Linked DNA regions of Homo sapiens. The protein of the gene in region 1 interacts with the protein of each later gene in a pairwise test. Each region holds a gene or a part of one and is shown on either strand. Other genes may lie near its edges. The genes, in order: NLRP12, DNAJA3, TLN1, CORO1A, BIRC3, HCK and TNRC6C.

The links.
Region 2: the proteins of NLRP12 (region 1) and DNAJA3 interact in a two-hybrid assay, tested with the Homo sapiens proteins (one large-scale study listed by IntAct).
Region 3: the proteins of NLRP12 (region 1) and TLN1 interact in a two-hybrid assay, tested with the Homo sapiens proteins (one large-scale study listed by IntAct).
Region 4: the proteins of NLRP12 (region 1) and CORO1A interact in a two-hybrid assay, tested with the Homo sapiens proteins (one large-scale study listed by IntAct).
Region 5: the proteins of NLRP12 (region 1) and BIRC3 interact in a two-hybrid assay, tested with the Homo sapiens proteins (one large-scale study listed by IntAct).
Region 6: the proteins of NLRP12 (region 1) and HCK interact in binary tests that used the Homo sapiens proteins (3 or more experiments, as listed by UniProt).
Region 7: the proteins of NLRP12 (region 1) and TNRC6C interact in a two-hybrid assay, tested with the Homo sapiens proteins (one large-scale study listed by IntAct).

What each region holds. Positions count from the first base shown.
Region 1 is NC_000019.10:53,800,315-53,803,814, forward strand, and holds part of NLRP12 (NACHT, LRR and PYD domains-containing protein 12), read right to left. Parts: intron 1,084-3,500; coding exon 913-1,083; intron 1-912. UniProt on the Homo sapiens protein: Plays an essential role as an potent mitigator of inflammation. Primarily expressed in dendritic cells and macrophages, inhibits both canonical and non-canonical NF-kappa-B and ERK activation pathways.
Region 2 is NC_000016.10:4,449,868-4,453,367, reverse strand, and holds part of DNAJA3 (dnaJ homolog subfamily A member 3, mitochondrial), read right to left. Parts: intron 2,969-3,500; coding exon 2,871-2,968; intron 1-2,870. UniProt on the Homo sapiens protein: Modulates apoptotic signal transduction or effector structures within the mitochondrial matrix. Affect cytochrome C release from the mitochondria and caspase 3 activation, but not caspase 8 activation.
Region 3 is NC_000009.12:35,701,196-35,704,695, reverse strand, and holds part of TLN1 (talin-1), read left to right. Parts: coding exon 1-27; intron 28-197; coding exon 198-364; intron 365-521; coding exon 522-705; intron 706-795; coding exon 796-921; intron 922-1,019; coding exon 1,020-1,136; intron 1,137-3,500. UniProt on the Homo sapiens protein: High molecular weight cytoskeletal protein concentrated at regions of cell-matrix and cell-cell contacts. Involved in connections of major cytoskeletal structures to the plasma membrane.
Region 4 is NC_000016.10:30,186,602-30,189,576, reverse strand, and holds the end of CORO1A (coronin-1A), read right to left. Parts: coding exon 2,857-2,975; intron 2,762-2,856; coding exon 2,632-2,761; intron 2,539-2,631; coding exon 2,354-2,538; intron 2,196-2,353; coding exon 2,076-2,195; intron 1,853-2,075; coding exon 1,748-1,852; intron 1,636-1,747; coding exon 1,490-1,635; intron 1,386-1,489; coding exon 1,328-1,385; intron 1,217-1,327; coding exon 1,001-1,216; intron 718-1,000; coding exon 613-717; 3' UTR 501-612; downstream 1-500. UniProt on the Homo sapiens protein: May be a crucial component of the cytoskeleton of highly motile cells, functioning both in the invagination of large pieces of plasma membrane, as well as in forming protrusions of the plasma membrane involved in cell locomotion.
Region 5 is NC_000011.10:102,323,984-102,327,483, reverse strand, and holds part of BIRC3 (baculoviral IAP repeat-containing protein 3), read right to left. Parts: 5' UTR 2,975-3,500; coding exon 2,122-2,974; intron 2,019-2,121; coding exon 1,919-2,018; intron 1-1,918. UniProt on the Homo sapiens protein: Multi-functional protein which regulates not only caspases and apoptosis, but also modulates inflammatory signaling and immunity, mitogenic kinase signaling and cell proliferation, as well as cell invasion and metastasis.
Region 6 is NC_000020.11:32,099,799-32,102,356, forward strand, and holds the end of HCK (tyrosine-protein kinase HCK), read left to right. Parts: intron 1-1,518; coding exon 1,519-1,721; 3' UTR 1,722-2,058; downstream 2,059-2,558. UniProt on the Homo sapiens protein: Non-receptor tyrosine-protein kinase found in hematopoietic cells that transmits signals from cell surface receptors and plays an important role in the regulation of innate immune responses, including neutrophil, monocyte, macrophage and mast cell functions, phagocytosis, cell survival and proliferation, cell adhesion and migration.
Region 7 is NC_000017.11:78,087,703-78,091,202, reverse strand, and holds part of TNRC6C (trinucleotide repeat-containing gene 6C protein), read right to left. Parts: intron 1-3,500. UniProt on the Homo sapiens protein: Plays a role in RNA-mediated gene silencing by micro-RNAs (miRNAs). Required for miRNA-dependent translational repression of complementary mRNAs by argonaute family proteins.

The DNA.
Region 1 (3,500 bases):
AAAAATTAGCCATCTGTGGTGGCATGCGCTTGCAGTCCCAGCTACTCAGGAGGCTGAGTTGGGAGGATGGCTTCAGCCCAGGATGTCGGGCTATGATCACACCACTCCACTCCAGCACTGGTGACAGAGCAAGACCCTGTCTCAAAATACAAAGTAAAGAGTGTTCAGAAGAAAAATTGAACTTCTCCAGGCAAAGAGGGGACAGAGAGCAGAAGGCATGCCAGGGAATAAGAATTGCTTGTGCAAAGGGCCGTGCGTCAGAAAACCCCCCCCTTTTTTTTTTTTGAGACGGAGTTTCGCTCTTGTTGCCCAGACTGGAGTGCAATGGCTCCATCTCAGCTCACAGCAACTTCCACCTCCCGGGTTCAACGGATTCTCCTGCCTCAGCCTCGCGAGTAGCTGGCATTATAGGCATGCACCACCATGCCTGGCTACTTTTGTATTTTTAGTACAGATGGGGTGTTTCTACATGTTGGTCAGGCTGGTCTCGAATTCCCCACCTCAGGTGATCCTCCCACCTCGGCCTCCCAAAAGTGCTGGAATTAAGGTGTCAGCCACCATGCCCGGCCAGAAAAATCCTTTTAAAAAGGCTGATGTAGGCTGGGTGCAGTGGCTCAAGCCTGTAATCCCAGCACTTTGGGAGGCCAAGGCAGGCAGATCATGAGGTCAGTAGATCGAGACCATCCTGCTAACATGATGAAACCCTGTCTCTACTAAAAATACAAAAAATTAGCTGGGCTTGGTGGCGGGCGCCTGTAATCTCAGCTACTTGGGAGTCTCAAAAAAAAAAAAAAAAGGCTGATGTAGTAGCTAGAGTTTAGGAGCAGAGACAACCTGGCCTCCGTGGTCCCAGGTGAGAGGGCTGCGTTCATGGATTGGGACTCCTAGCGTGGTGAGCAAAACGGGACTCACCGCAGGGTCTGGAGCTTGCACGTGGGATGCCTGAGGCCCTCACACAGCAGCAGCACCCCGAGGTCCCCCAGCTCATTCAGGCTCAGGTCCAGCTCTCTCAGGCTCTGGTTCACACTGAGAGTTGAGGCCAGCTCGTCACAGGCAGCAGCAGTGAGGCGGCAGATCTTCAGCCTGCACAAAGTCCAATTCAACAAGCATTATGGAGGCTTTCCTTTCTTTTTCTTTTTTTTTTTTTTTTTTTTTGAGACAGAGTCCCACTCTGTTGCCCAGGCTGGAATGCAGTGGTGCAATCTCGGCTCAGCTGCATCCTCCACCTCCCATGTTCAAGCGATTCTCCTGCCTCAGCCTCCTGAATCGCTGGGACTACAAGCGTGTGGCATCACGCCTAGTTAGTTTTTGTATTTTTAGTAGAGACAGGGTTTCTCGCCATGTTGGCTAGGGTGGTCTCGAACTCCTGACCATGGGTGATATGCCTGCCTCAGCCTCCCAAAGGACTGGAATTACAGGCGTGAGCCACTGCGCCTAGGCCCCCAATCTTAACAGTAATGCATTTTCAGACAATCTAATTTAAAAATGGGCAAAAGGGCCCGGCCTGGTGGCTCACGCCTGTAATCCCAGCACTTTGGGAGGCCGAGGCTGGCAGATCACCTGAGGTCGGGAGTTTGAGACCAGCCTGACCAACATGGAGAAACCCCCTCTCTACTAATAATACAAAATTAGACTGGGCACAGTGGCTCATGCCTGTAATCTCAGCACTTTGGGAGGCTGAGATGGGTGGATCACCTGAGGTTGGGAGATGGAGACCATCCTGGCTAACATGGTGAAACCCCGTCTCTACTAAATACAAAAAATTAGCTGGGCGTGGTGGCGCATGCCTGTAATCCCAGCTACTTGGGAGGCTGAGGCAGGAGAATCACTTGAACCCAGGAGGCGGAGGTTGCCGTGAGCTGAGATCACGCCATTGCACTCCAGCCTGGGCAACAAGAGTGGAACTCCATCTCAAATAAATAAATAATAAATAAAAATAAATGAGCAAAAGGCTTGAATACACATTTCTTCAAGGAAGGTGTACAAATGGCCAAAAAGCACCTGAAAAGATGCTCAATCTCAATAATCATTGGGGAAATACAAATGAAAACCACGATAAGATAGCATCTCATACCCATTAGGATGCCTACTATTAAAAATAAATAGAATGCGGCCGGGCATGGTGGCTCACGCCTGTAATCCCAGCACTTTCGGGGGCTGAGGCGGGCGGGTCACGAGGTCAGGAGATCGAGACCATCCTGGCTAACACGGTGAAACCCCGTCTCTACTAAAAATACAAAAAATTAGCCAAGCGTGGTGGCAGGCGCCTGTAGTCCCAGCTACTAGGGAGGTCGAGGCAGGAGAATGGTGTGAACCCGGGAGGCGGAGCTTGCAGTGAGCAGAGATCACACCACTGCACTCCAGCCTGGGCGACAGAGCAAGACTCTGTCTCAAAAAAAAAAAAGAAAACTGGGGAAGATGGTACATTTTATGTTGCATGTATTTTACCACAATTAAATTTACTTTTTATTTTATTAGGGACAGGGTCTCACCCTGTCACCCAGTCTGGGGTACAGTGGCTTGATCACAGCTCACTGCAGCCTTGGCCTCCGAGGCTCCTGAATAGCTGGGACTCCAGACACATACCACCCACCCCAGCTAATTATGTTTATTTTTTGTAGAGATGAAGTCTCACTGGTTCCCAGGCTGCTCTTGAGCTCCTGCACTCAAGCCATTCTCCTGCCTTGGCCTTCCAGAGGGTTGTGATTACAGCTGTGAGCCACCGCGCCCTGCCCTTCTGAATATTTTTGATCCATGGTTGATGAAATTCACGAATGCAGAACCCGTGGACACAGAGGGCTGACTGTGGCTCAGTGGCATGAAGTAGTTTCACGCTACTGGGAAATCATCACTGCTATCCATCTCTGGAACTTTTTTTTTTTTTGAGACGGAGTTTCGTTTTTGTTGTCCAGGCTGGAGTGCAATGACACAGTGTTGGCTCACCACAACCTCCGCCTCCCAAGTTCAAGTGATTCTCCTGCCTCAGCCTCCCGAGTAGTTGGGATTATAGGCATGTGCCACCACGCCTGGCTAATTTTGTATTTTAGTAGAGACGGGGCTTCTCCATGTTGGTCAGGCTGGTCTCGAACTCCAGACCTCAGGTGATCTGCCCACCTCGGCCTCCCAAAGTGCTGGGATTACAGGCGTGAACTACCGCACCCGGCCCATCTCTGGAACTTTTTCATCTTCCGAAATGGAACCTCTGCTCCCGTTAAACGGTAACTCCCCATTTCTTCCTGTTCTAGGCCTTGGCAGCCACTATTCTACTTTGTTTTTTGAGATGGAGTCTCACTCTGTCACCGTGGCTGGAGTGCAGTGACGTGATCTCAGCTCACTGCAACTTCCGCCTCTCAGGTTCAAGTGATCCTCCTGCCTCAGCCCCCTGAGTAGCTGTGATTACAGGCGTGTGCCACCACATCCAGCTAATTTTTGTATCTTTAGTAGAGAGGGGGTTTCACCGTGTTGGCCAGGCTGGTCTCGAACTCCTGACCTCAGATGAT
Region 2 (3,500 bases), on another chromosome or scaffold:
TTCCCTCTCTGTTCGCCAGAAGATGGACCTGTTTATCCCTGCAAGTGCTGAGTCTCTAAGCACACCATGGTCTTTCTGGGAGACCGGGGTCAGCTCTTAAGGTTTTCAGCAGCTACATTAAGATACTAAACGCATCAAAAACTATGCTGGTCAGGCACAGTGGCTCATGTCTGTAATTCCAACACTCTGGGAGGCCAAGGTGGGAGGATCACTTGAGTCCAGGAGTTTGAGGCTGCCGTGAGCTATGACTGCACCACTGCACTCCAGGCTGGGCCACAGAGCAAGACTCTGCCTCAAATAAATAAATAAATCCCACTGTTGCTTAAGTTCTTAGGACATGAGAATTATATGTCCTGTAATACTGTCATATGTGGATGCAAAACTAACTGTCTTCACAGTATAATGAGAGACTTAACCACCCACAGGCAGCAGACTGACATGTGACGGTGTATGCTTAGGGACAGAGTCTTGCCCTGGCACCCAGGCTGGAGTACAGTGTCGCTGTCATGACTCACCGCAGCCTTGAGTACTAAGGCTCAAGTGATCTTCTCATCTCAGCTTCCCAAGTAGCTGGTGATAGAGGTGCATACTACTTTGCACCTGGCTAGTTTTGAAATTTTTTGTAGAGACAGAGTCTCGCTATATTGCCCAGGCTGGTCTCGAACTCCTGGGTTCAAGTGATCTTCCTGCATTAGCCGCCCAAAGTGCTGGGATTATAGGTGTGAGCCGCTGCATCCGGCCTCACCAAGATCTTTAAAAGGAAGAGCTGACAGTGTCTTGCACACAGGAGAAGACATCCTGGCTGAGTGAGGGAACAGCTGAGTGAGGCTGAGTGATCAGGACAAGTAACCATGGAAGTGACAAAGGATCTCAGTGGGTGGCGGAATCAACTTTCAACTTACAGTATCAGAGAGAGGGTCAAAACATCAACTGGTGACCAGTAATACCCAACCTCCAACAGAGTAAGCAACACCCACGAACCCACCCAGGGCCCGGCCGTAGCACACCTCAAGCTACCCTGATGGGCGGGAGGAGGGAAGGACAGCTGTCTATGGAACCAATCTCGCATGTTATGTGATTGTAGGGTTTGAGGAAGGAGAAGCCACAGGTGCACTGATTAGAGTTCCGGGGAATAGCTACTCTATTACCACTTCTATTTTAGTTCAAGAGATACAACAAGAACAAAAGATAGTATACATATACACAGTATATGTACCAAACCATTAAAATAAGTGACATTTGGAACCTGGTTGGGCTACAGAGTTTTGTGGCAGCTGCTTTTTTGTTGTTGTTTTTTTGAGACAGAGTCTCGCTATGTCACCCAGGCTGTAGTGCAGTGGTGCAATCTTGGCTCACTGCACCCTCTGCCTCCTGGATTCAAGCAATTATCCTGCCTCAGCCTCCAGAGTAGCTGGGATTATGGATGCCCACCACCATGCCCCGCTAGTTTTTGTATTTTTTTTTTTTTTTTAGTAGAGACAGGGTTTCACCATGTTGGTCAGGCTGGTCTCAAACTCCTGACCTCGTGATCCACCCTCCTCGGCGTCCCAAAGTGCTAGGATTACAGGCGTGAGCCACCGCGCCAGGCCCTTTTTTTTTTTTTTTTTTTTTTTTTCAGAGAGTCTCACTGTCACCCAAGCTGGAGTGCAGTGGTGTGGTCTTGGCTCACTGCATCCTCTGCCTCCTGGGTTCAAGCGATTCTCCTGCCTCAGCGTCCTGAGTAGCTGAGATTACAGGCATGCACCACCATACCCAGCTAATTTTTGTATTTTTAGTAGGGATGGGGTTTCGCCATGCTGTCCAGGCTGGTCTCAAACTCCTGACTTCAAGTGATCCACCTGCCCCTGCCTCCCAAAGTGCTGGGATTACAGGCAAGAGCCACTGCGCCCGGCCGGCAGCTGCTTTTTAACAGAGGAATTCCAGTCCCCTGGGAGCAACAGGAGCTCAGTGAAATTCCAGGGACTTCCATCCCAGCCCCTGCCCCTGCCCCTGGAGCTCCAAATCCTCCACTTTATTGGAAAATCGGCCCCCAGCTCCAAACACCTGCTACGAATTACCATGCACTAATCTAAGGCTGCTCAAGTTCTGAGAACTCCACCCAGGATCCAAACAAAAACAAAATGATGCAATGAGGAGGAAATACATGCCGCCTGAACCAAGGACCCCTGGGCACAGCCTGCCCTGCCCTGAGCCAGGAGTCCCAGGAAAGAGGCCCCAGACCCCATGGGAAGAGGGGCTGCAGCTGGGGTGCCATTGTCTCAGCGCCCACAGCAGGTGTTCTGGTGACAGATCCCTAACACAGCCACTCGCTAGCACGATGTCTGAGCTCAGGGTAAATGGTGCATCTGTTCACGGCTAGATAACTTGGAGGGAGTCCTGCTCTAAAGCGGCGGACGGAGTCTGCTGACTGCGGCTCCACTGCTGTGGCTGCTGTTGTTTTAAGACACTCTGAAATCCTGGCGGAGTGTCCCAGGTGGGAAGTGCACAAATCCTTCCAATCCATGCTCTCTCCTTACGCTTTTGCCAGGAGCTCTCAGGGAAGGATTTGTCCGAGGTCACAGGGCAAGTGGCAGAACCAAGAATAGAACTCAGAACACTGGGTCTGAGACACGCAGAGCTGCCTGCAGGAAGTGCCCTGGTGCTCTCACCTCAGCACAGAAACACACACAGAGAGAGGAGGCGAAGCTTGGACTGGGGGCTGCGGCTCCCTGCCCGCTGTCCCCGCCCACAGCCCCCCTCTTTCAACTGCACATTTTAAAGGCTTCATGAAGAACCCGAAGTGGAAACCCCAACATGCTGCCCTGAATTGTCCATACCCTGGGGGGCTCTGAGGCCCCCACGTGTCACCATGTAGTCTTCAGACTCCTTACCAGAGCTGGTGAGGGTGACGCCGTTCACCGTCCCCTCCACATCTGTCTCGTCCTCGGCGTAGCTCAGGATCAGGCTCTGCTGCCGGCTCGTTAGCCTCCTGTGGACCGAGCAGAGTCAGCAGCCAAGGCTTCCGCCGGGAAGCTTTGGAAAGAACTCACAGGCAGCCAGCACCCTCGCAGCACATGGGAAGAGAGGGACCCAACCTTGGCAGGGGCGGACACCCTGAGCCAGTGCAGCGGTGAGAACCTAAGGACCATGCCCTCAAAGCTTCTGTACAGAAAAGCTCCTAAAACACCCTACACTAAGTCATTTAAACAAGTGTCACTGTGGCTATGCTAAATACAGTTTACAGGAGGGGAAACAGATTTTACCAGTGTGTATGTGAAGCAAGTAAGAAATTATCTAATTAGGCCAGGCGCAGTGGCTCATGCCTGTAATCCCAGCATTTTGGGAGGCCAAGGTGGGCGGATCACAAGGTCAGGAGATAGAGACCATCCTGGCCAACAAGGTGAAACCCCGTCTCTACTGAAAATACAAAAATTAGCTGGGCGTGGCGGCACATGCCTATAGTCCCAGCTACTTGGGAGGCTGAGGCAGGAGAATTGCTTAAATCTGGGAGGTGGAGATTG
Region 3 (3,500 bases), on another chromosome or scaffold:
GAGTGTGCCCGGAGAGTCTCTGAGAAGGTGACGGTGCTCATCCCTGCAGATGGTGGGACTGCCTCCAAACTCTGTAGCCTTTGCCATCCTCCTCCAGCCCTCTCAGCCCTCTCCTGTTGTCACTTCTCCCAGGCATGGGCAACCTTTCCATTTCACATGGCACCTTCCACAGTCACCATGTGACATTCCCTACCCAGGTCTCCCACGTCCTGGCTGCGCTCCAGGCTGGGAATCGTGGCACCCAGGCCTGCATCACAGCAGCCAGCGCTGTGTCTGGTATCATTGCTGACCTCGACACCACCATCATGTTCGCCACTGCTGGCACGCTCAATCGTGAGGGTACTGAAACTTTCGCTGACCACCGGTAAGACAGGAACTGGGCCTAAGGGAGGCAGACAGGTCGGGGCACGGGGCTGGAAGAGGCAGGATAGCATTCGCTGGAATGGGGAAGACCTGGACCAGGCACCTTGGACGGGCTGGAGCGGGTAGGGGAGATCTGACTAAGCTGGGCCCTCCCTCAGGGAGGGCATCCTGAAGACTGCGAAGGTGCTGGTGGAGGACACCAAGGTCCTGGTGCAAAACGCAGCTGGGAGCCAGGAGAAGTTGGCGCAGGCTGCCCAGTCCTCCGTGGCGACCATCACCCGCCTCGCTGATGTGGTCAAGCTGGGTGCAGCCAGCCTGGGAGCTGAGGACCCTGAGACCCAGGTAGTGACCTGATGCCCCTAATTCCGGCTGGAATCACTTCCTGTCCCGCTTCTTCCTCCCATAGACCAGAGCCAACGCTTTCCCACACAGGTGGTACTAATCAACGCAGTGAAAGATGTAGCCAAAGCCCTGGGAGACCTCATCAGTGCAACGAAGGCTGCAGCTGGCAAAGTTGGAGATGACCCTGCTGTGTGGCAGCTAAAGAACTCTGCCAAGGTTGGAGAGAATGAGAGCAACATCAGGAGGGGCACTGGATTAACATACTTCCTCCTGTTCCTTAAAATCATTCCTCTTCACTCCTCTGATACCTCCAGGTGATGGTGACCAATGTGACATCATTGCTTAAGACAGTAAAAGCCGTGGAAGATGAGGCCACCAAAGGCACTCGGGCCCTGGAGGCAACCACAGAACACATACGGCAGGAGCTGGCGGTGAGTGAGAGTCTGGGGCATCAGTGACTAGGGTCAGAGAGAGGGATCCTGAAAGCCTGTGAACCTGTGCCACACATATACTCACAGCTGGAGTCACACACAGTCTTCTCTCTCATCTATCGCCAGACTTTTTTTTTGAGAAGGGTCTTGCTCTGTAGCCATCCTCCTCCAGCCTTCTCAGCCCTCTCCTCTTGTCATTTCTCCCAGGTGTGGGTGACCTTTCCATTTCACATGGCATCTTCCTCAGTCACCATGTGACTTCCCCTACCCCAGCTCTCCCACACCCTCCTTCTGGAGTGCAGTGGCGTGATCTCAGCTCACTACAACCTCCACCTCCCAGGTTCAAGTGCTTCTCATGCCTCAGCCTCCTGAGTCACTGGGAATACAGGTGCATACCATGCTGGCTAGTTTTTGTATTTTTAGTAGAGATGGGGTTTCACCATGTTGACCAGGCTGGTCTCGAACTCCTGGCCTCAAGTGATCCACCCGCCTTGGCCTCCCAAAGTGCTGGGATTACACTCATGAGCCACTGTGCCAGTGAGCTACATTCATGTCTGTCCCCTACCCACTTGTTTATTCCTTAGCATGTGACAACTGTATTTTTTCACCACCCTCCCACTTTCTCCAGTCACTAGTGGCCTCTTCTTAGTTGCTACATTCAGTGGCCACTTCTTGGCCTTCATCCTCTTTGAATATTTCGAAAGCATCTGACTGTGTTAACAAGCCTCTCTTTGAAATTCTTTCTTCTGCTGGGCATGGTGGCTCACGCCAGCACTTTGGGAGGCCAGCGGGTGTAATCCCAGCACTTTGGGAGGCTGAGGCGGGTGGATCACAAGGTCGGGAGTTCGAGACCAGCCTGGCCAATATGGTGAAACCCCGTCTCTACTAAAAATACAAAAATTAGCTGGGCGTGGTGGCACGCGCCTGTAGTCCCAGCTGCTTGGGAGGCTAAGGCAGGAGAATCGCTGGAACCCGGGAGGCAGAGGTTGCAGTGAGCCAAGATGGCGCCACTGCACTCCAGCCTGGGCAACAGAGTGAGACTCCATCTCAAAAAAAAACAAAAAAGAAAAAAAATGAAATTCTTTCTTCCCTTGGCCTAGATACTGGCTTTTCTCTTGTTTCTCGAACGTCATTGAATCACCTTTAACTTAGTAAATGTGGAGGCCTTCCCAGGGTTGTACAAATAGTCTTCCTTCTCTCTTCTCTTCTTTGGCAAGTTTAACCACTTTCATTATTATTCTGTAAGAAGCAGACATCCAGTTCTGAGTTGAGTTATTTTCAACTGCCTGTTTGACATCACCACCTAGATGCAGTGCCTCCGAACCATGACATGGTCCTCCTAATGGTGGGAACACCCTTGCAGTCATGAAGATTCCACCTCAGTCATCTTTGACTTCACCATCTTAGCCACCATATCCAGGCTGTTGCCACGTCCTTTCATTCCTCCTCCCTGGTTCCCTGTCCGCACTCTGGTTCACACTTCCATACTCTCCCGCAATTTGGCTGTGGCACCAGTTTTCTCCCTGGTCTCCCTGCTTCTGGTCCCTGCCACTCTCCTCTCTCCCTACTCATCTTTCTAATTTCTAAATGCATCTTTCTAAGGTTCTGTTTTCACTTTTACTTGAAGATGTCCAAGTTGGAACTCTTGACTTTCTGCCTCCCATACCTGGTCCTTTCCTGGTCTTCCCCCATCTCAGTAAATGGCACCTCTTAGTAACTCAGTTCCTAAAGCCAGAAACCTAGCTTCAATATATTAGACTTCTCTCTTTCTCTCATTCCCCACATCTAAGTTTTGCTAGTGCCCCTTCCAAATACAGCTCATTTTTTCTTTTTATCTCCTACCACTACCACACTGTCCAAACCATCATCAGTCCTTAACTGGATTTATGCAGTAGTCTCTATCCAGTCACCATGCTTCAACACTTGCCCCCTCCAATCCTCCTTTGTACACAGTAGCTAAAATTATGTTTTTAAAATATAAATTAGAGTCTGGACATGCTGGCTGATGCCTGTAAAATCCCAGCGCTTTGGAAGACTGAGATGGGAGGATCACTTGAGTGAGTTCAAGACTAGTCTGGACAACATAGCAAGATCCTGTCTCTACAAAAAATTTAAAGATTAGCTGGGCAAGGTGGCCCATGCCTGTCCCAGTTACTCATGAGTCTGAAGGCAGGAGGATCCCTTGAGCCCAGGGGTTCAAGTCTGCAGTGAACTATGATCACTCCAGTGCACTCCAGCCTGGGTGACAGAGCAAGAAATATATATATATTAGATTATGTCACTTCACTACTTAAAACCCATTAGTGATGGCTCTGCTTGCTTCTCCAGTCTCATCCTACTCTCTTCCTTTCTGTGCCCCATCCC
Region 4 (2,975 bases), on another chromosome or scaffold:
TCCTGGGCTCAAATGATCCTGCCGCCTCAGCCTCCCACAGTGCTGGGATTATAGACGTGAGTCCCCATGCCCAGCCTCCCTCGTTATTTTTATCTTTGGACCTGCAGTTTAAAAGATGCCTACCCTGTAAGTGATGGTTGGTTCATTTCCTCACAAGCAACAGTGCCAGCAGAGTCACGTGCAACGTGATGTTTTGGTTGACTAGGAAAGGCAGATTTTTGGTAAATTTGGGAATTATTGAGGTTCTAAGCTAGGGCCTTAAATAGTTCAGCTGTGTCAGCTCTGAGAAGGAGCTCGGAAACGGAGAGCAGCCTCCTGGCCCACATCAGCATGGCTGGTTTCTACCCACGAAGGCCCTGTTCCTGTGATGTAGTAAGTCAGGGGGCATCCCACATCCCCTGCCATGGGTCAGTCCCCTCAGCGCGGTGGAGGGGAAGCTCTAGGGCTGGTTGGTTCAGCAAACTGCGTGTCTAGGGGACCAGTCATCAGAGTCTGGGAGGTACCAGAAAATAAAGCCATTTTATTATGATTTTTTTCTCTGCCATGTGGCTGGGAATGGGAGGTGAGTGGATGGGTGTGAATGGCTGACCCTGCTGGAGGCCCTGCGGGGCTCTACTTGGCCTGGACTGTCTCCTCCAGCCTGTCCAAGCGCTTCTGGAGCTCCTGCACCGTGGCCTGGAGCTTCCGCATCTCCTCCTCCAGCCGAGACACGGCATCCTGGGGACCCGGTGCTGCATTAGGCCCAGCTCCTCCCTGGCTCCCCTTACCCCAGCCTCTGCTGAGCCCCATCCCTAGAGCCCTGGCCTTGGGCCCTTTAGTCGCTCAGCTGGTTGCTGCCTGGAGACCTGCAGGCCTATCAATCTGAAACCTGTGTTCTGAGGCCTCAGGATTACCATTCCCGGACCCACAAAGATTCCCAATGTTGTGAGTTTGAGGTGCCCCAAACACCAGCCCCACCCCACCCTCCCAGTTTTATTCCCTGGCTTCCCAGCCCTCTCACCGAGCTGGGAGTGCCACTGGCCTCTGGTGCTGCCCTCCTGCGCCCGGTGTCCAGGCCCCGGTTGACCCTCAGCTCCCGGCTCTTTGGGGGTACGTAGCCATCCTTGAGGGAGATGAGGAGGGGCCCAGCATCCCGACCCCCCAGCCACTCCTCAGCCGTGAGGGCAGGGTCGGGCCCTGCGGTGGGTGGGTACAGGTCCTCCTGGAACAGGTCCGACTGTGGGCAAGGCCAGGGATAGTGAGGAAAGCGCTTATGCCAGGACACCCCCCACAAGACCGCAAAGTCAGTGCCCAGCCTGGAGCCCAGGGTGGGGCGGGGGAGCATCACCTTTCGAGGCACTGTCATGGCAATGGGCTCACACCTCCGCTCGTGCAGCTTGTAGAACCTGTGGGAAGGGGAAGGTGAGCGGGGCCCACAGTCTGGTTGGGTGGGCTTGGGACTGCCCACTGCCCAAGGAGCATGCTGCGGTCAGGGCCGGGGGTCAGTCACCTGGCGATCTCACACTTGTTCACCTCCAGGCCACGTTTGGGCATGTAGCCCATGCCCCGCTGGGACTCCTTGGAACTGAACATGGAGAGATAGTGCAGGAAAGGGGCCTCGGAAGTGATCTCAAAGTACCGGATTGAGCTGTCACCCTGTAGGTGGCAGGTGTGGAGGGAGGGTCAATACCAGCGGATGCCCACTGCCCTGGCCCTCTCCAGGCCCATCCTGCCCACCTCCCACCCCCACCCCGCCCGACGAGGCCACCTTGCCACAGAGGTAGACGATGTTGGTGTCAGGGTCAAAGAAGGGCAGCAGGACACCGCTGCTGGTGTCCAGCTCCTGCAGGGACAGCGGCTCCTCCAGGTGCTTCTGTAGACACAGGTGAGAGGTAACATCCCAGGCCCTGGGATGGTGGTCTTCCCTGGGCAGTGACCTGTGAGGGCCCTCCCGACCAACCAGTGGGAACAACCATCTCACGCCTGGGTAAACTGAGGCCCATGGCCATCCTGCCAGGTGAGTGGCAGAGCAGGGACGAAACCTCCAGTCTTGGTTCCCAGCCTGGGGGCCCTCGGCTTCCTGCCCCAGCACTCACTGTGTCCCACAGCGCCACCTGCCGCTCACTCATGCGGCTGAAGCCCGTGGTCAGGATCTTCCCCTCCGACACGAACACTGCACGCACGGGCCGGGTCCCCTCGTGGGGACGGTCCTTCTCCTGCAAGGAAAGGGAGGTGGTAGGTCAGGCACCCGTACATACCCTACGGGGCCAGTCCCAGGTGGAGGCGAGGGAGGGCAGCATCCAAGGGCCTGGCTGATGGTGGATAAGAAGGATAAAGGCTGTAGGGTCAAAGGTCAGGGTAGATGGCGACTCACAGCTACGACAGTGCCTTTGCGGGGCTCGATGATGCGCACGCGCTTGTCACGGCAGGAGGTACAAATGAGGCCTCCATCTCGGCTCCAGTCCACACTGTAGATCGTGTCTGGGTGCACCTCTGGGCCCAGTGTCAGCATGGCCGCCCCAGTGCCCACGTCCCACACCATGATCACGTTGTCACAACCTGCACGTTCCCCACAGTGTCAGAAGCCATGAGCCTCCTGCCCTCATCCACTGCAGGCCACGAGCCACCCCCAAGCCCCTCCTCCCGCAGCACCTGCACTGAGCAGCACGTTCTGGGCTGTGGTGTGCCAGGCCACAATGCCCACACGCTTGGTGTGGCCCTCCAGGGTGACGACGGGCTCCCGCAGGGGCAGCATCAGGCCCCCATCTGGGATCTCCCACACCTGCAGAGGAGGGGCCAGTGAGTCTTCAGGACTCCAAATGTCAGATCCCATCCTAGAGCCCCTCTCCCAGCCCCTGGGTCCCCACCACCACTCACCATGACTGTGCAGTCCTCGGAGCCACTGGCAATGACGTTGTCATTGTGCGGGCACCAGGCGATGTCTAGCACAGGGGCTGTGTGGCCACAGACCGTGGGCGCATTCTTGTCCACACGTC
Region 5 (3,500 bases), on another chromosome or scaffold:
ATTTTTAGTGGAGATGGGGCTTTACCATGTTGCCATACTGGTCTCGAACTCCTGACCTCAAGTGATCCTCCTGCCTCAGCCTCCCAAAGTGCTGCGATTACAGGCATGAGCCACTGCACCCGACCACTTCAGCTAATTTTGAAAAGTTCTAAAGGTTTATCTTAATTTGGGCAGGACTAATCCAGCCATTTGTAGACTGGCTATTTCAAGTGAGTATAAACATACATATAATCAATTTACTCTTAATATATTGTGAAGTATAAATATTTCAAATGAGTATAAATGTACATATAATCAATTTACTATTCATTTAGCATATAGGGAATGGTCAGAGATATTGCAGTGAAAGGCAGGTTGATATAAGCAAGAGGAAGGTGATTACTAGTTATCTACCAAGGCTCAAGTGGACAAGGGTCAGGAGCCCCTCAGTCTACTGAGGTCAAGTAAGACCATCTCTCCTCAGAGCTCTTAGCTACTCTCTTCAACTCTTCTAAGATTCTTAAAACACACTGATGTTGGCCGGGCAAGCACCTCAAAGTCCTGAGGTCAGGAGTTTGAGACCAGCCTGGACAACATGGTGAAACCCTGTCTCTACAAAAATACAAAAATTAGCTGGGCATGCTAGCGTGCACCTGTAATCCCAGCTACTAGCGAGGCTCGAGGCATGAGAATTGCCTGAACCCAAGAGGCGGAGGTTGCAGTGAGCTGACATCACACCATCGCACTCCAATCTGGGCAACAGAGCCAGGCTCCATCTCAAAAGAAAAGAGGAAAAAAAGTAATCAAAATAAGTTAAGATGCCACATTTATTAATCGATATTAACCCATTTCCCATTTAGAAAAAAAACAGTGCAGCTTGTTGCCAGTGCAGTATTCTCAGGGCAAATGGGAAACGGGTTGAATAATAGCAAAAGTTTTGACCATGAAAAAATGTAATTGTAGGCCACATGATTTAGATGAAAAAGGAGAGTGTAAAAAACTTTTTGAAGCTGATATTTTAGTTAGTACATTAAGTTTCTTACCCACGTGATAAAAACCCACACTTGCAAGCTAATCAGGATTAACTAGAACACTAGGTGGCCAGTTAAACAATCAAAAGGGTAACACATCACATTAAAATGCTGCGTGGCGACTAAAACAGATGAGATGAGTCTATACTTACCCTGACCACCCAATTTAATATTGTAACCTGCCTGGCATTTCTAAACTCCTCTTTGTTCTTTTTATTGATTGTACTTATTTTCCAACATGCTATAGAACTTATTCAAGTTTTTATTAGTTGTCTGTTCTCTCGTGCTATAATAAAAACTTAGGAGACCAGGGGTCTTTGTTTTGTTCAACTGATTTTATGCACCCAGAACAATGCCTGCCAATAGGTGATCAATTATTATTGAATACCGAATGAATGGAAATATATCCAAGACAAATGTTGACTGAAAAAACTTCAAAACTAGATATAATATTTAACTTATGTAAAATGGTGTACATTTATTTCTATATGTATATGTATTTATTTCTATATGTATATGTATCATATACATTTATTTCTATATGTCTGGAGGGATGTTCACTAAAGTGGTAACCATGCTCATCCTTAGGCGGTAAGATTTCTGGACATTTTAATTTTCCTTCTCTGTGCTTTTCTACAATGTGTGACTTTGTTTTTATAATGAGCATGTATTATTTAAATATATATATATTTCTTTAAAAATTAAACAAAAATCCCCAAATCTATTTCTTCGTTGTCTTAAGTCCATCGAAACTTTTTAAGTAAGTATTTTACTAAGTAATCCATCCTAAACTTATTCACAAATATATATTTGGAACAGAGTAAAGTAACAACTGATTTCAGGTGAACACATATAAGCAATCTCATGATAATCACAAGAATTTGCAAAGAGAATTTCAAAACAATTACCTTGGAAACCACTTGGCATGTTGAACCCATGGATCATCTCCAGATTCCCAACACCTGAGTCCACCATCACAGCAAAAGCATTTGACATCATCACTGTTACCTAAAATTAATTTTAGACCAAAACTTATGAATACACATAATTTGCCCACTAAAATGTATAAAATGAAATATATTTTTTTTAATTAGCAGATTCAGTTTCTTACCCACATAATAAAAACCCGCACTTGCAAGCTGCTCAGGATTAACTAGAACACTAGAGGGCCAGTTAAAGAATGTTTTAAAGCGGGCTGCATGTGTCTGCATGCTCAGATTAGAAACTGTGTATCTTGAAGTGTCTTGAAGCTGATTTTCTATAAATGGGCATTTGGGAAAATGTCTCAGGTGTTCTGACATAGCATTATCCTTCGGTTCCCAATTGCTCAATTTTCCACCACAGGCAAAGCAAGCCACTCTGTCTCCAGGTCCTATGTAGTAAAAGCCTGCTTTTGCCAGATCTGTTGGCGACAGAAAAGTCAATGGCCATGTCTGAAAAGTAAGTAATCTGGCATTTTCGTTATTCATTGCACAGTGGTAGGAACTTCTCATCAAGGCAGAAAAATCTTGATTTGCTCTGGAGTTTACAGGATTTGATGGAGAGTTTGAATAAGAGCCACGGAAATATCCACTGTTTTCTGTACCCGGAAGTAATGAGTGTGTGGAATTTGTTACTGAAGAAGGAAAAGTAGGCTGAGAGGTAGCTTCCAAGTTGTTAACGGAATTTAGACTCTGAACGAATCTGCAGCTAGGATACAACTTTTTATGCTTTTCAGTAGGACTGTCTCCTCTTTTCCAGTTATCCAGCATCAGGCCACAACAGAAGCATTTGACCTTGTCATTCACACCAGTGTAATAGAAACCAGCACGAGCAAGACTCCTTTCTGAGACAGGAACCCCAGCAGGAAAAGTGGAATACGTAGACATTCGGTACAGTTCACATGACAAGTCGTATTTCAGTTCAAACGTGTTGGCGCTTTTCATCAAATTTGATAAGAATATGCTGTTTTCTACTATGTTCATAATGAAATGAATGGGGAAGAAAAGGGACTAGCCTTTCTCTAGGGAGGTAGTTTTGTGCATGGCTTTGCTTTTATCAGTTTTAATACTAGGCTGAAAAGCCAAAATGAAAAATTTTTTATTATTTTTATTTCTATGCATTTAGAGTTTCAACATGGAGATTCTAAATCCTATACTGATACATTTTAAGGAAGAAATACACAATTGCACCTTTGTATAATCTTTATACATACAATGTAAACATGATGCTACAGAGTAAGCTGTGTTGAAAATTAAAACCCTTCACAGAAGAGTGATGTGTATTAAGCCATCAGGATGCCATTTAATGGCAGGCATCTCCACAGGTAGGTCAACTTCTCCAGGCTACTAGAATGTTTCAGTGGCATTCAATCAACCCAAAGATGTAATGTGTGACTCATGAAGCTTCTTTTCATGGTGGAAAGCTCTGCTGTCAAGTGTTTCACAGCAAAAATATTCAGAATATGTTTATTTTGCTTTTTGGAAATTGTGAAATTTAGTGGCCAGGAAA
Region 6 (2,558 bases), on another chromosome or scaffold:
CATCAGTCTTACTGCTTTCTCCCTCCTCGTCCTACAGCCTATTCTCCACTTGCAGCCAGAAGGATAATTCTAAACTTTAAATCAGATCTTGTCCTTTCTCCACCTTTTTTTTTTTTTTTAAGACAAGGTCTCACTCTGTCACTGAGGCTGTAGTGCAGTGGTGTAATCATAGCTCATGGCAGCCTCGACTTCCTAGGCTCAAATGATCCTCCCGCTTCAGCCTCCCGAGTATCTGGGACCATAGGCACATGCCACCATGTCTGGCTATTTTTTATTTTTTTAATTTTTTTGTAGAGACTTGGTCTCACTACGTTGTGCAGCCTGGTCTCTAACTTCCAGGCTCAAACGATCCTCCAGCCTTGGCCTCCCAAAATGCTGGGATTACAGACACACACCACCATGCCCAGCTAATTCTTTAAATTTTTTGAGAGACAAGGTATTGCTATGTTGCCGGGCTGGTGATTTCCATTTTTAAGCGATGCTTTCAGCATGGAGAGTGAATGGGAGGGAAAGGGAACAGGGTGGCAGCCAGTGAGGAGGCCACAGCAGTGGCCCAGGCAGAGGTGATGATGGTCTGGACAGGGTGGTGGCATTCGTGACTGGCATACGTTGATGAACTGGTGCTACGTTTCAAAAGGAGAAAAGATCTGACTTGCTGACTTAGGAGGTGAGAGAGAGAGAATAAAGGATGATTACCCTGGCTTTGCACCACAGGGTGGGTAATGGTCTAGGGATAGAAATTGGAGAGCTCTGTTTTAGCTCTGCTAAATTTGAGTTGACTTAAATATAGAGACATCCAAGTAAAGGAAGCACTTGAGTTCATGAGTTTGGAGTTTGAGACTAATAATATAAAATTGGGGATCACAGACATTGAATGGCTATTCTTATGAATAGCTAATAGAAACTTGAACTGAACAAAAAAATGGTCCCACCCATAGGTTAACATTGAATCTGGCCACCTGAATGTTTTGTCTTGAGGGTGCACTAGTCAAAACCAGGCAACACACAATAGACGCTGAATCCATTAGGATGTGTTCCACAGCAAGCAACAAAATAACAGACAAAGAGTAACTGAAATAGAAGCAATCTATTACTCCCAATCTTCCATTGGTGACTGGTTAGTTCAGCAACTCAGCAGCTGTCAGGACTCTGGGTTCCTGTCTCTATGATGGTCTTCTCCATGTTGTCAGCTCCAAGTATCATAAGTATCTCACAGTGTTCAAAGGAAGAGATGAAGGGTGCGTTCTCCAAAGACTCTCCTCTAAGCGGGAGGAAAAACCTTTCCATCACTTTCCCAGCAGACCTCCCCATCAGCTCCCATTGGCCCAAACTGGGTCCCAGGCCCATGTCCTAGCTGCAAGTGAAGCTGAGGGTGGAAGTCTGTCTTTCACAGTGGAAGGGGCTCAGCTTGCAAGGTGAGGTGGGGAGTGATGCCTGCTGGGGAGGCCACAGGGCCTGCCACCCCTGGGCTCTCATTTCCCAACTGCTTCCGTTTCTAATTCCACGGCTCCTTTTCAGGGATGTCAAACCCTGAAGTGATCCGAGCTCTGGAGCGTGGATACCGGATGCCTCGCCCAGAGAACTGCCCAGAGGAGCTCTACAACATCATGATGCGCTGCTGGAAAAACCGTCCGGAGGAGCGGCCGACCTTCGAATACATCCAGAGTGTGCTGGATGACTTCTACACGGCCACAGAGAGCCAGTACCAACAGCAGCCATGATAGGGAGGACCAGGGCAGGGCCAGGGGGTGCCCAGGTGGTGGCTGCAAGGTGGCTCCAGCACCATCCGCCAGGGCCCACACCCCCTTCCTACTCCCAGACACCCACCCTCGCTTCAGCCACAGTTTCCTCATCTGTCCAGTGGGTAGGTTGGACTGGAAAATCTCTTTTTGACTCTTGCAATCCACAATCTGACATTCTCAGGAAGCCCCCAAGTTGATATTTCTATTTCCTGGAATGGTTGGATTTTAGTTACAGCTGTGATTTGGAAGGGAAACTTTCAAAATAGTGAAATGAATATTTAAATAAAAGATATAAATGCCAAAGTCTTTACCAAAACGTTGGTTTTCCTGTCCTTCCAATTCCTGAATATCTATTTGCCTTCTTGCTGTATGACAAGTCAGAAATGGTGAAGGACTCTCCCGGGGACCAGAAATACAAAGACAAGTGGGGTTCAGACTGGGTGCTGTGGCTCCCACCTATAATACCAGTGCTTTGGGAGACCGAGGAGCGGGGGATTGCTTGAGCCCAGGAGGTCGAGGCCACAGTGAGCTATGATCGTGCCACTGCACTCTAGCCTGAGCGACACAGTGAGACCCTGTTTAAAAAAAAAAAAAAAAGATGAAGAAGAAGAAAGAAAGGAAAGGAAAGAAAATTGGGGTTCAATGCTTGAGGTTTTCTAACTGCCCTAAAATAGTTACTGGCTATATTAGTTTCCTCTTGCTCCTGTAACAAATTACCACATATCTGGTAGCTTAAGACAACAAAACTGCATAACATTACTTGGCCGGGCATAATGGCTCATGCCTATAGTTCCAGCATTTTGGGAGACTGAGGTG
Region 7 (3,500 bases), on another chromosome or scaffold:
GCAAAATATTTTAACTATAACTTTTAGTGCTGGTGAAAAAATACTACTTATCGTCATAACAACATGTATTTCTAGGAATATTATTCCTAAATTAAGGTGAAAATGTGAATAGTCTTTGATTAAGTAAGGCCCACAATTCTCTTCATTTTACTTGTTTCAGTGCTGAATAAACATGGTCCTGAGGCTTCTCAGAGTCCACAGGAAAATAGAAAAAGTCCAAACTATTAGGAAAATCTTTCTTTGTTTTGGGATATCTTACGGAAACTCATCAGGTCAAAAACACTTTTCCAGAACTCTAAAGTACCACCTATGAAACAGACTGATAGGATAATTCAGTTCTACCTTTAGTGAGTTTCCTTTACAAAAGTCTGCTCTGAAAGAGTCTGTGAATTAAGTATCAAACTACTTTTAAGGAACTGAACTATTTGACAGCGGGGGTGCTGCCATCTGCCCCCAGCTGGGATGGTGAGCTGAGGCTTCTGGGCTCATTCCTTATAGCTAAAAGCAGGTACCTGGTTATTTGTCCAGGACCTGCACTAAGCTAGGTTAATAAAGAAAGATGATGAGGAGGACAATGAAAAGAAGGTTGAAGTAAAGAGTTTCTGATGAGGACACTAGTTTGGAGCAGGACAGACTGCTTGTTTGGAAGGGAATAACCAGCACAAGCGCCCCCCTCCCCTTGTATTTCCAGCTGCAGTTCCCCTTACCACATACACATACCCCATAGGTCCTTACCGTAAGTACTACGCCACACGGTACGTAAGCACAGTGAGCCTCTACTACTTAGCCAGGTGCTGAACATTCTGGTTCTTACCTTTATTTCAGAGGCTGCAAATTCAAATGCCCATAGGAGCCAGGTGGGCCATGCACATGAAGAAGTGGGCTTCATGGGGACTGTGGCAAACCAGAGAGTGTCTGTCCTGTCTAAATAAACAGGTGCTACTGGGGCCAACCACCTATTGCTACCTGGAACATAGACCCACTATAGCCATTTTTAAGAGAAGCCAGAAGCCACTTTCCCCAATTTTTGAATGTTGGCATTAACACACACCTATGCACATGCACACACACACTTCGCAGACCTAACAAAACGCCTTTGCAAGCCCATCAGTGCCACAGGGCTGCCTACTTGCAATCTCTGCTGTGTGGGTTCTTTTCGTTTCAGCTTGTACAGATCTAGCCAGGTAAGGTGGCAACAATGTCAGGGCTTCAACCTGGCCTTCAGAATGCTCCAAATTTCACAATTTGGCGCCAACCCATCTCTCCCAACTTTCCCCTCTGGGAAAGTCAGCTAGACTGGCCTGGCCCTTGCAAAATGGGCCCCTGAAACAAGCCAGGCCTCTTTCTTCTGTGCTACGTGAGGCTTCCCCTTTATTTGGAAAGGCTTCCTCTTTATTTACTGTAATCCTATCCAATCATTTGAGGTTCAAGCTTAATCCTACTCTCTGATTTTTCTTTCACCACTCAAAGTGAAAGTGAACTTTTCCTTCTCTAGAGCCCTGTAAGAATCACATGACACTGGTATCAAGGTTATTTTTTCCCATTTATATGCCTGCTCTTCCTATCTAGATGGCGAACTCCAGGTGGCAAAAGACTGAGAATAACAACGACAGGCTGAACATGAGGGAAGGAAGGTAGCTAGGAGCCCCCACTACTGACCATGGGCTGCTGGTTTCTTTACATGAATTGATGAGTGTCTAACAGGCTCTTCAACATAGGTGCTGCTGCAGAGAAATGCTGAGAGCCAACAAGATAGGCAATTTTACAACCAAAGTTTCCTAGACTTTATTAGTTATTTGCTTTTAATACATTTATAACTTTACTGTGAATATTATAAAATATTATCCAAATTATTTTTCAACTAATTTCAAAGATTCACTGCATGAATTCTTTAACTTGTACTAAGAGAAAAAATCCTTAAGAGTAAAGATAAGTGGTCGGGCACGGTGGCTCACGCCTGTAATCCCAACACTTTGGGAGGCTTAGGTGAGCGGATCACTTGAGGTCAGGAGTTTGAGACCAGCCTGGCCAACATGGTGAAACCCAGTCTCTACTAAAAATACAAAAATTAGCCAGGCGTGGTGATGCATGCCTGTAATCCCATCAATTTGGGAGGCTGAGGCAGGAGAATTGCTTGAATCCAGAAGGTGGAGGTTGCAGTGAGCCGAGACTGCGCCATCGCACTCCAGCCTGGGCAACAGAGCAAGACTCTATCTCAAAAAAAAAAAAAAAAAAAAAAAAAAGTAACGATAAGTGTACTTTATCCTCCAAATATAGGTTAAGAAGACAGGTGAATAATAGAAAGCTGAAGCTAATGCATTTTAGGATAATAGGTGGGATGAAATTTGTTTCTAAAACAGAAGCACTTACATAAGTAGCTGACATTTTACAAAGTGTTTGCTATGTGCTAGGCACTATTTAAGAACTTTACATATTAGGCCAGGTGTGATGGCTCATGCCTGTAATCACAGCACTTTGGGAAGCTGAGACCAGCAGGATCACTTAAGGCCAGGAGTTTGAGGCTGCAATGAGCTATGATCACGCCACTGCACTCCAGCCAAAAAAAAAAAGAGAGAGAAAAAAAAAAGAAAAAAGAGAACTTTACATATTAGCTCATTTAATCTTTAAAACAAACCTAGGAGTTAAGTATTTCCACATTACAGATGAAGAAATTAAGGCATGGCTCAGTATGGTGTCTCAGGCCTGTAATCCTAACACTTAGGGAGGATCACTTGAGGCCAGGAGTTTTGAGACTTGCCTGGGCAACATAGAAAGACCCTGTCTCTACCAAAAAAAAAAGAAAGAAAAATAAAGAAATTGAAGCAAACAGCAGCTAGGCAAGTTGCCCAAGTTAGTAGTGAGCCTCTTGGTGGTGAGTTGGGACTCAAACCTAGGGAGTCTAATTCCTAAGTCAGGTCTTACCTACTTCGACACAAAGGGCTCTAATGGATGAGACAATAATTAAGGAACGAGATCATCTAGTCTAGTATTTATCAATCTCATATTAAAGATATACCACATTTATAATATGTCAAGTAAAAAGGATTCATATGATTACAATATACCGCTCTTTTCAGAGACATTGAATAGAATTAGATAAATGAATATTATCTGCTGGCAGCAAATTCACTACCACTCAACTGGCCTTTGCCCCTTTACAGATGTATTTTCCAAGTTACCGATAACCCTTTGTCCTGTATCTACAGACTCTAATAGCAATCAACAGACAAGCCTAAAGTGCTTTCACTAACTTCTGAATTCTTACGGCAAATTAGTCCATGCAGAATCAATTTACTAATTTATACCCTCTGGTGTCTTCAGGTATGTGAGCTGTGTCTCTCCTGACTGGCCTGACCTCGAGGCCTGGCACCATGTCTTCTACTGACCTGCGGGTTTCAAGTGCTGAGTGTGCTTCTACAAGTTAGATTTCAACATATATATGTTGATTTGGTCGATTATACAAATCACATTTCATACAAAATGAGTTGTATCAACAACCA